Linked DNA regions of Homo sapiens: region 1 is reported to be linked to region 2. The links are microRNA targets in miRTarBase. Many come from high-throughput screens and were not tested one by one. Region 2 holds a microRNA gene; the other region holds the end of a gene's coding sequence.
Evidence for each region. The annotated mature microRNA hsa-miR-134-3p reads CCUGUGGGCCACCUAGUCACCAA and lies in region 2 at 1,458-1,480, opposite strand. An mRNA with a match to its seed (bases 2 to 7 or 8) in the 3' UTR can be bound and repressed. Matches are read on the target gene's strand: a 7mer-m8 pairs with bases 2 to 8, a 7mer-A1 pairs with bases 2 to 7 and ends in A, and an 8mer does both.

Region 1: the mRNA of PAICS is a reported target of hsa-miR-134-3p. Seed matches in the 3' UTR shown: 7mer-A1 at 2,841-2,847.

The regions. Positions count from the first base shown.
Region 1 is chr4:56,459,005-56,463,395 of GRCh38, reverse strand. It overlaps PAICS (phosphoribosylaminoimidazole carboxylase and phosphoribosylaminoimidazolesuccinocarboxamide synthase), which reads right to left. Exons shown (of 9, transcript NM_001079524.2): 9 at 1-4,024. The coding sequence ends at 3,858. It overlaps LOC124900706 (a long non-coding RNA gene), which reads left to right. Exons shown (of 2, transcript XR_007058126.1): 2 at 403-2,086. Among named protein-coding and RNA genes, the nearest start is that of SRP72, 6.4 kb to the left of the region's middle. RefSeq lists an enhancer at 3,199-4,391.
Region 2 is chr14:101,051,821-101,056,211 of GRCh38, reverse strand. It overlaps MIR134 (microRNA 134), which reads right to left and starts at 1,525; the gene lies at 1,453-1,525. MIR487A (microRNA 487a) reads right to left here and starts at 3,766; the gene lies at 3,687-3,766. It overlaps MIR382 (microRNA 382), which reads right to left and starts at 1,906; the gene lies at 1,831-1,906. It overlaps MIR668 (microRNA 668), which reads right to left and starts at 954; the gene lies at 889-954. It also overlaps MIR485.

The DNA.
Region 1 (4,391 bases), not on the chromosome of region 2:
ATGGTATCTTGTCAACTCAGAGGCAAGCAGAAGAAATAAGACGTGAGCCACCGCGCCCAGCCTCATGTACAGTATCTTATGGTATCTTATCAACTCAGAGGCAAGCAGAAGAAATATTTAGCTCCATTTTATAACTTGATTTCCATTCCACTATTTTCATTGTACTGCAATGTGAGATTAACAATTCCACCCCAAGTATTTGAGGTGTGGGAAGCTGGATGTAAAAACACCATTAAAAACAACTCTTTTCAATGGCTTTCTAAGGTTGGCTGGGCTGAAATGGCAGGTTGTGGATGCTCCGTGGCACATCACACTGCCCCTTTCTTCATATTAGAAATTAAATCAGCCGATGGCAATATTGAATTCCAGGTAATTTTCTTTCTTTCTTTTTTTTTGAAACAGAGTTTTGCTCTTGTTGCCCAGGCTGGAGTACAATGGCGCAACCTCGGCTCACCACAACCTCCGCTTCCCAGGTTCAAGCGATTCTCCTGCCTCAGCCTCCTGAGTCGCTGGGATTACAGGAATGTGCCACCATGCCCGGCTAGTTTTGTATTTTTATTAGAGACTGGGTTTCTCCATGTTGGTCAGGCTGGTCTCGAACTCCTGATCTCAGGTGATCCACCTGCCTCGGCCACCCAAAGTGCTGGGATTACAGGCATGAGCTACCATGCCCAGAGAATTCCAGGTAATTCTCATGGTGAATGAATTCCATTCATACTGTTGTTCTTCAGTCTGCCAAATGGATATTACATAACACATTTGTGTGCCATGATGGGCCTTACATATATTGACTCATGTAATTCTCACAACTTTATGAGGTGGTATTAGTCGCATTTTCATTTCATGAAATTGAGGCACAAAAAAATTAGACATGTTGAAGATCATACATCATCCCTCACCTGGGCTACAATAGCCTCTTAACTAATCTCTGCTTCTCCTCTTGTCCACACAACAGCCAGAGAACCTTTAAATATGTTAAGTATGTCAAGCCTCTGCTCAAACTGAGTTTTTCCTGTCACACTTCAGTGTGGCCTATAGGCCCTAAGTGATGTAGCCTTTGCTTATATTGTCTTCCACTCTCATCCTTGTTCACAGAGCTCTAGCAATTCTCATGTTTGGAGGTCCTCAAGGCAAAACTCAGCTTTATTTCCCATTCCCTTAGTATGGAAAGCTATTTCCCTATCTGTGTGTCTTGCTTTTACATCATTGCTCTGCTCTCCTCAAAAACCTTCCCCTCTTATCCCCATCACCGTCCTCATTTTGATTCTTCATATACATTTATCCTTTCCTGATTTTATACTGTTTACCTTTTTATGGTTTGTTTTCCCCTCTAAAACATAAGTTCCATCTGGACAAGGGCTTTGCTCAGTCCTATTTTCCTAGGCCCTAGAATCAAACCAGTATTGGGTGAATGGATACTGAATGAAGCTTTACCTAAGTGCTTTGTCTTTTACTTAGTTTCAGTGGTTAAATCTCAGAAAGCTTAACAGCAATTCTAAGCATGTCTTTATCATAAAAGGTTAAAAACTGTATTATTGGGATATTTTTTCTCTTTTTATGTTTACCTACAAGCCCGTAGAAAGTATAAATACTCAAAAGATAGCAGACCAGGTAGGCTTAAGTTACTTTTACAAAACAGTAGAAATACCTTCAAATATTTAGCACTGATGAACTTACTACTGAGGACATGTGGACTCTACTAAGAAACTAATGATGAAATTCATAATTGGGTGTGGTAGCACATGCACCCAGCTACTCGAGAGGCTGCAGCTTGAGTCCAGGAGTTCAAGGCTGCAGGGAGCCATAATCATGCCACTGCACTCCAGCCTGGGAGACAGTGAGAACTTGGCTCTTAAAAAAAAAAAGGAAAAAAAATTGATAACGACAATTTGTAATGGTCAGTCCTATCCACCAGTCTAAATGAAAGTTTAAAAATTTTCATATACTGCACAGAAGTAGATGGAGTCTTAATGCTAGGTAAGGGTAAACAAGCTGAAATAGCAGTCAGTGACTTCAGAGACCATGAAACCAAAGTTAATCTTCTAAGTCCTTTTAATTGTTCTTATAAACTAGCATAAGATATAAACTTAAGTAGTACACATGAGTTTTATAATTTACTAATCTCTGACAGATAGCTAAGCATAGCACATCAGAGCATAACACAGTGTGAGGGAAATAAAGTGTACAATGACATCTTCTATTCTGGACCTAATAATTCAATAGAGAAAGAACTACTTGTAGTCACTGTGGTTACAGAAGGTTTCATGGACAGCGAACATAAAGCTCTACTAGCTAACAAATAGGTCTTAATGATAAAAACGTGGGCCTTCAGAGAACTAAAGGTACCAATGTGTGGCAGTCCAAAATTACGAGGAAAATGAGTTCCCTTCATGGGTCACATCAGCAATTTTTTTTTTCCCCTTTTGAGACAGAGTCTTGCTCTGCTGCCCAGGTTGGAGTGCAGTGGCATGATCTAGGCTCACTGCAACCTCCGCCTCCCGGGTTCAAGCAATTCTCATGCCTCAGCCTCCCGAGTAGCTGGGATTACAGGTGCCTGTCATCACGGCTGGCTACTTTTTGTATTTTTAGTAGAGACAGGGTTTCACCATGTTGGCCAGGCTGGTCTCAAACTCCTGACCTCAAGTGATCTGCTTGCTTCAGCCTCCCGAAGTGCTGTGATCGTAGGTGTGAGCCACTGTGCCCAGCTACCTCATCAATTCTTAATCTATAAACCATGGATAGGCTTCGGGAGAACCCAAGAACCAATGAAATCTGTTGGTAAGTTTTATGTGTGCGGTTTTCTACAGAGAGGGTCAACAGCATGTATATTTTCAAAGAAGTCTGTGGTGCAAAAGAGAGTTTATTGTTAGAAGTCCTTGGGCAATCAACTTGGAAAAGGGTGGATTGAGAATGGGGGCTGTCTAGATCAGGATAATGTTGAATTTGACCCTCACTTGAGGCTTTTGTACAGAGGATGAGAAGACGGTAAATTCAAGGGTTAATCAGAAATTAACACCAACATGACTTGGTGATGAGTGAGATGTGAAACGTGAGAAAAACATCAATGATGAAATCAAGCTTCTGACTTGCAACAGTGAGTATACCAAGAGCTACAGGCTTGGAAGATGAATAAAGTTGGGAGCATTCTGTTTTTTCATGAGTGCCCATGGGACAGACAGGGAGAAATGGACAGTTGAAAGTACAAGTCTAGACAGGCACAGTGGCTCATGTCTGTAACCCTAGCACTTTGGGAGGCTGAGATAGGAGAATTACTAGGGTTCAGGAGTTTGAGACGAACCTGGGTGACATAGTGAGAGCTCATCTCTACAAAAAATAAAATTAGCTCGGCATGGTGCTGCAAGATTATAGTCCCTGTTAGTCGAGAGGCTGAGGTGGGAGAACTGCTTGAGCCCAGGAGGGAAAGCAGCAGTGAACTGAGATCACGCCACTGCACTCCAGCCTGGGCGACAGTGAGACCCTGTCTCAAAAAAAAAAAAAAAAATGCAAGTCTGGAGAAATATAGCTGGGAGTCAGTAATGCCAGTTTTAGCTGAGGGAGTTAAGATCATTTAATCAGTGTTAAGGAAGAAACTCAATAGTAGTGACCACCAATACTTAAGGAAAAAGGATAAAGTAAGAGGAATGATAAAGGCTGGCTGAAATATCTTGGTGTCTAGCCTAAGAAAGGAGGGGTTAGATGCTCATGTTTATTAATATGGATCTAGAGAAGCATTTATTCACTAATACATTTTATTTGTGTTCTCTAATTTAAAATTACCTTTTCATCTTGCTTGATTTTCCTTCAGCTAAATTAGAAATTTGTAGTTTTTCCCCTAAAAAATTCAATGGCATTCTTTCTTATAAATTACATTCTCTGATTTTCTTGTCAGCCTGCTTCAAGGAAATCCATGTGTTCAAAATGCTTGCTCGCAGTTTGCTCCATACCAAATGGTTGCTTAACCCAAATATCTGAGCAGCAAATTGAGCTGATCCTTCTGGAGAAAGTACGGTTGAACAGCCAAGACCTATTGGTTCAGCAAGGAAAAGACAGAAAATTGAGCTCAATTAGTAATGAAAATACAACCTTACAAAAAATTTTATACTCAGAGCAGTCCTGCCACAGAAAATAAAAAGCTACTGCATTATTCTAATCTAAAGTAGAATCTGTACAACTGTCTTTAATACCGGAGTGGTAAAGTGATTACAAGAGGAAAAGCAGTCAGTATTACCTGCCATGAAGAGATATTTTATATATATCATCTATCACCCTTCTTATAGAACTCACTTACAAAGAAACTTATCTTTTTGAAACTTCTGTTCACATACACTATCCCTTTCAATCCCTGGCGAAGAACAACTGAAGCAAAATAAGGGTCAAGGTAAGAGTACAAA
Region 2 (4,391 bases):
GCACTGCTCGCAGCATTCCTGCATCTTCTGCACAGCCTGGGCAGCTTGGGAGTGGCCTCTGAGGGTGGATGGGACCCTGAGGATGAGTGGACCAGGTGGCTCAAACCCATGCTCTCCGGCCAACCCCAGGTTCACCAAGCCAGGATTAGTGTGCACAGAAATACCACTTCTTGTGCTCAGCTGGCCATGCAGGCAACATTTAATAATGCAAGGATGTCAGTGGCACAGGAGTCATTAAATATGAAGCAAACCACACACAAATGTGTGTGCAAAAGCAGGCTAAGCACTGCCTCCTTGGTAAACCTGGGATTCCCTTACAGGAATTCTCTGGAGGGTGTAAGGCTGCTGTGGGTTAGTAAACCAGGGGTCGCACAGAGTCCTGTTCCTGTTTTCTTCTGTATCCCGACGGCTGACTAATAAAAGATGCTTCTAGATGCCCAAGATTCAACTCCAAGGTTGAATTTGATAGGAATAAAAAAAGAAGTCAGCCATGTGTATTTCAATCTTAACTTTTAAAAAATTAGGGCATCCCAACAACCTCTCTCGATTTTCCTAAAGTTGGTAGTGCCCCAGGAAGTTGTTTTAGGGTCAGCTTGGACTCTAAAGTTAGTAGGTCAGTTACATGCATCCTCAGGAAAATGCTTGCCATGGGGTCAGCCATCCAGAAACCTACCTTGGAAGCAGCACTGGCTCAGGAAGCCCTCCGAGGCAGAATTTGACACTAAAAGAGAGGAGAGCCGTGTATGACTCGCTTTGATGAATCGAATTCATCACGGCCAGCCTCTCTCCAAGTACCACACATGAACACTGGTGAGAAATCCATTGCCTCTCTGGCAGAGGTGGCCGCCCTTCTCGGGAGTCCTGTTAGGAATGGGTGGGATAGTATTGGGTAGTGGGCCGAGCCGAGTGACATACACCCACATTAAGTGCATGCTCACCCGAGGCGCACTTACCTTAAGGGAGTGCTGAGGGCACTGCCTTCTCCCCAGCAGCAAGGATGCAGTTCGTCCTTCCAGACAAGACAGGGAGCTTTTGCGTAGCTCACTGGTCCCTGACAGGAGAATCATGGCCGCTTCCCAAAGCCGCATTATCTCCATGGAGCCTCCTAGGGAGAGACAGGATGCTGGGTATTAGAGGACGACGTGACAGACCTAACAAAGGCAGCACATGCTCTGGGAAGAAGGATTCAGTCACACACCCAGGAGAAAAGCTGGCCCACATCAGGTCCCTCAACAGAAGACAACATGGCGTCCCACATCGGAAGTCAACACTTCAAGGAGGCTGTCACAGTGGTGAAGGGGCTGCCAAGGCTGACTCATTGCATTTTAAGTAAACATACACCCCCAAGAGCACGTGTCATCGCAGTCCACCAAGCAGTCACAGCAAGTCCATGGCCGCTTCCCCAGAGTTGGTGGGAGCTCTGGAAAGTCTTCCTGGAGTGGGAGTGATGCTGAGGGTTGGTGACTAGGTGGCCCACAGGGTGAACACAGTGCATGCCCCTCTGGTCAACCAGTCACACACCCTGGACGGTGCTGACACCAACATCTCTTCTGGAAGTCGGCCTGGGGCCCAGGGAGCCTCTCTTCAAAGTCTTGTGAGGTGACGCTGGTGACAGAACCACAGCTGATTCCCCAGAGTTGGTGAGACCCATGGGAAGACCTCCTATAGGTGCATGGGAGGCTCGGATTATCGGGCCAGGTGACTTACAGCTAGGTCAGCGCATTGTCCATGGCCCGCCATCCATTCTTGGCTTTTCCACATGGTTGACACAAAGACTATCTTTCCTGAAGCTGCCATTGTGTCCAGGAAGTCCTTAGAGGTAGCATTTGGTACTGAAAAAAGTGTTGTCCGTGAATGATTCGTCATAAGTAAAGCGAATCCACCACGAACAACTTCTCTTCAAGTACCACAGAAAAGCAGAGACAAGACAGACAAGGAGTCCCCTTCCACTTCTCCAAGGGGAGTGGCTGCCAACCACCATCCTGTGGACAGAGTGGACACCGAGCATTAGTGAGGCAGCTTACGGGTGTCCTAGGAACACACTGGAGTTTGGGCAACCCTTCACTCACCTCCCTTGGAGTGGTGCTGGCACAGTCCCCCTTCCCTGGAGTTGAAATTGTGGTCCTGAATCCACACGCACAAGGTTTAGAAATAAGAAGAGGGAAGCCACTTGTCACACGCCAGGAGCACTCCGCAGTGTGTAGACCCCAGGGTTTCTGAACAGGGCCTTGGACTTCTCAACAGAGCACACTGAGTTATCCATCAAGCACATCAAGGTGCCAGCCAGGCTCCCGCAGGGCCCACTGAACTAGGGAGGTCCAGAGGGGGCCCCCTTTTGCCACTGCAGGTGCCCCTAGAGAAACTGCCCAGCTCAGGCACGCCAGGCTCCTGGTAGGTTCCCCATCACTGCCCTGGGTAGATTCTCTATCAATGCCCTTGTGGTCAGAGTGATCTTTCCAACACAGACCACGCATCCCCCCTGCTCACAACCCTTCCAAATCCCCCATCTCACTCAGAATAAAACCTGGAGTCCTGCCTCTCCCAGCTCAGACCCAGCGACTCCCAGCAGCTCGGTTCAATCCCACTGGCCTTCTTGCTTTTTCTTAAAGATGCCAGGGGGCTTTCCATGGGCCTTGCCCTCCTCCTGAAATGCTCCTACCCCAGACCTTCCTCTGGTCCACCCCACTCCATTCCCACCCACATCCTCAGAGAGAGCTTTCCAGACCCCTGTATTTAACACAAAGGTCCACCTGCTTTTACCTCTTTCTGTCACTGTAACCCGCTTTCCCTTTCCCCATAAAACCTAGCAGTGGACAAAATTACGCTTCCTAATTCATGTGTTCTCATCCGTCTCTTCCACCAGAATGTAAAGTCCACATGAGCAAGAACTTGATTTCATTCACTGCTCTCTGCTAAGGTCCAGAATCACCTAGAACACAGTGTGCACTCCATCACTATTTATGGAATGACCAAGTCATTCCTTGTTATTTGATCAACTCATGAACCATGTAGTTATGCTATAAACAAAAGAATCTGATTTTTTTAAAAAGAGAGAACTTTATCGAAACAAAATCATGGTGGCCAAAGTCACCAACCCTCTCAATAGCCATTATGGCCATGGGCAGGACACAGCTCTGGCAGGAGAGTGAGCTCAGGGAGACGCCTCAGAAACAAAGCTCAGACTGCTCAACTAACTCTCCACAAACTCCAACAGATGTGGATGCCAAGTCTCCCCAGAGGGCGGTGCTGCTTCCAGAAACCCTTCCCTGGCAAGATTTGGCACTCAAAAATTCTGCCCTGGAACAAAAGCAATAATGATGACCAATTACCTATCAGTCAGTCCGGCTGATGACAGTAACACTACCGAGCCAGCATGTCTCCAGAGATTCATCTTACCAAGGGTGAGGGTCACTTGGAGCAGGTGACAGACGTCTTGTGTGAATGGGCCTCTCACTGGTCAACTTCCCCCAATAATGTAGTGCAGACACCAAAGCCCCTTCCAGAAAATCACAGCCTTAGAAGTAACCATCTTCCTCAGAGATTCGATTCTGGTCATGGCTGTGGCACATGAAGAAGCTAGTGCACTGCGATGGCCCGTTCACATACATACCTTGGGTGGGAGGTGAAGCCAAGACCCCTTGCCTGAAGGCGGGACGCTGTCCGGGAAGCCTTCCAAAGCAGTATTTGATACTGAAAAACTGGATGTCCCTGTATGATTCGTCATAAATTAAGCGAACACAGCAGGGATAACCACTCTTCAAGTACCGAAGGCTGACGGTGACGGCCCACGTCTTCACCAGAGTCTGCCTTCCTTCCAGCTAGTCCGCCTGAGGATGAATTGGGGACAGAGGGTTAGGAGAGTTGAGGGGTGCACAATGTCAATCAAGCCCTTGCTTTCCAGCCAACCATGCATTCTTGCCCCTGGAGAGGGACGAAGGGCAACAGCTCCTTCCAGAAAGCTTCCCCAGCAAGATCCATACTCAAAAAAGGCACTCCCTCATGAGACTGGGCATAAAGAAAGCAAACCCGGCAAGGAGAAGGTCCTTTCAAGTGCCAGAAAATAGCATGGCCTAGGAAACCACCACCTTGTCTTCTGAGCTGATGTGGCCTCCAGAAGTCACTGGATAGGTAGGGACTGTGGATCAACTGACATACACCATTTATAAAATGTACGTTCTCTGATCAACCATCCATTCCCCTATCATGGACAGCACCCTGCCTCCAGGTCAGGGTCCTGCCAGGGGACATCTCCGGGGAGTTTGTCCTGAAAAACAGTGGTCCAATATGATAAGCCACAAACCCAGGCGAGGCCCCACGGTCAGCCTCAACCCTGCTCTGCCCCCGAGGCCTCCAGAGCCTGGAGGCCACAGCATGTGAGTCTTACTCCAATG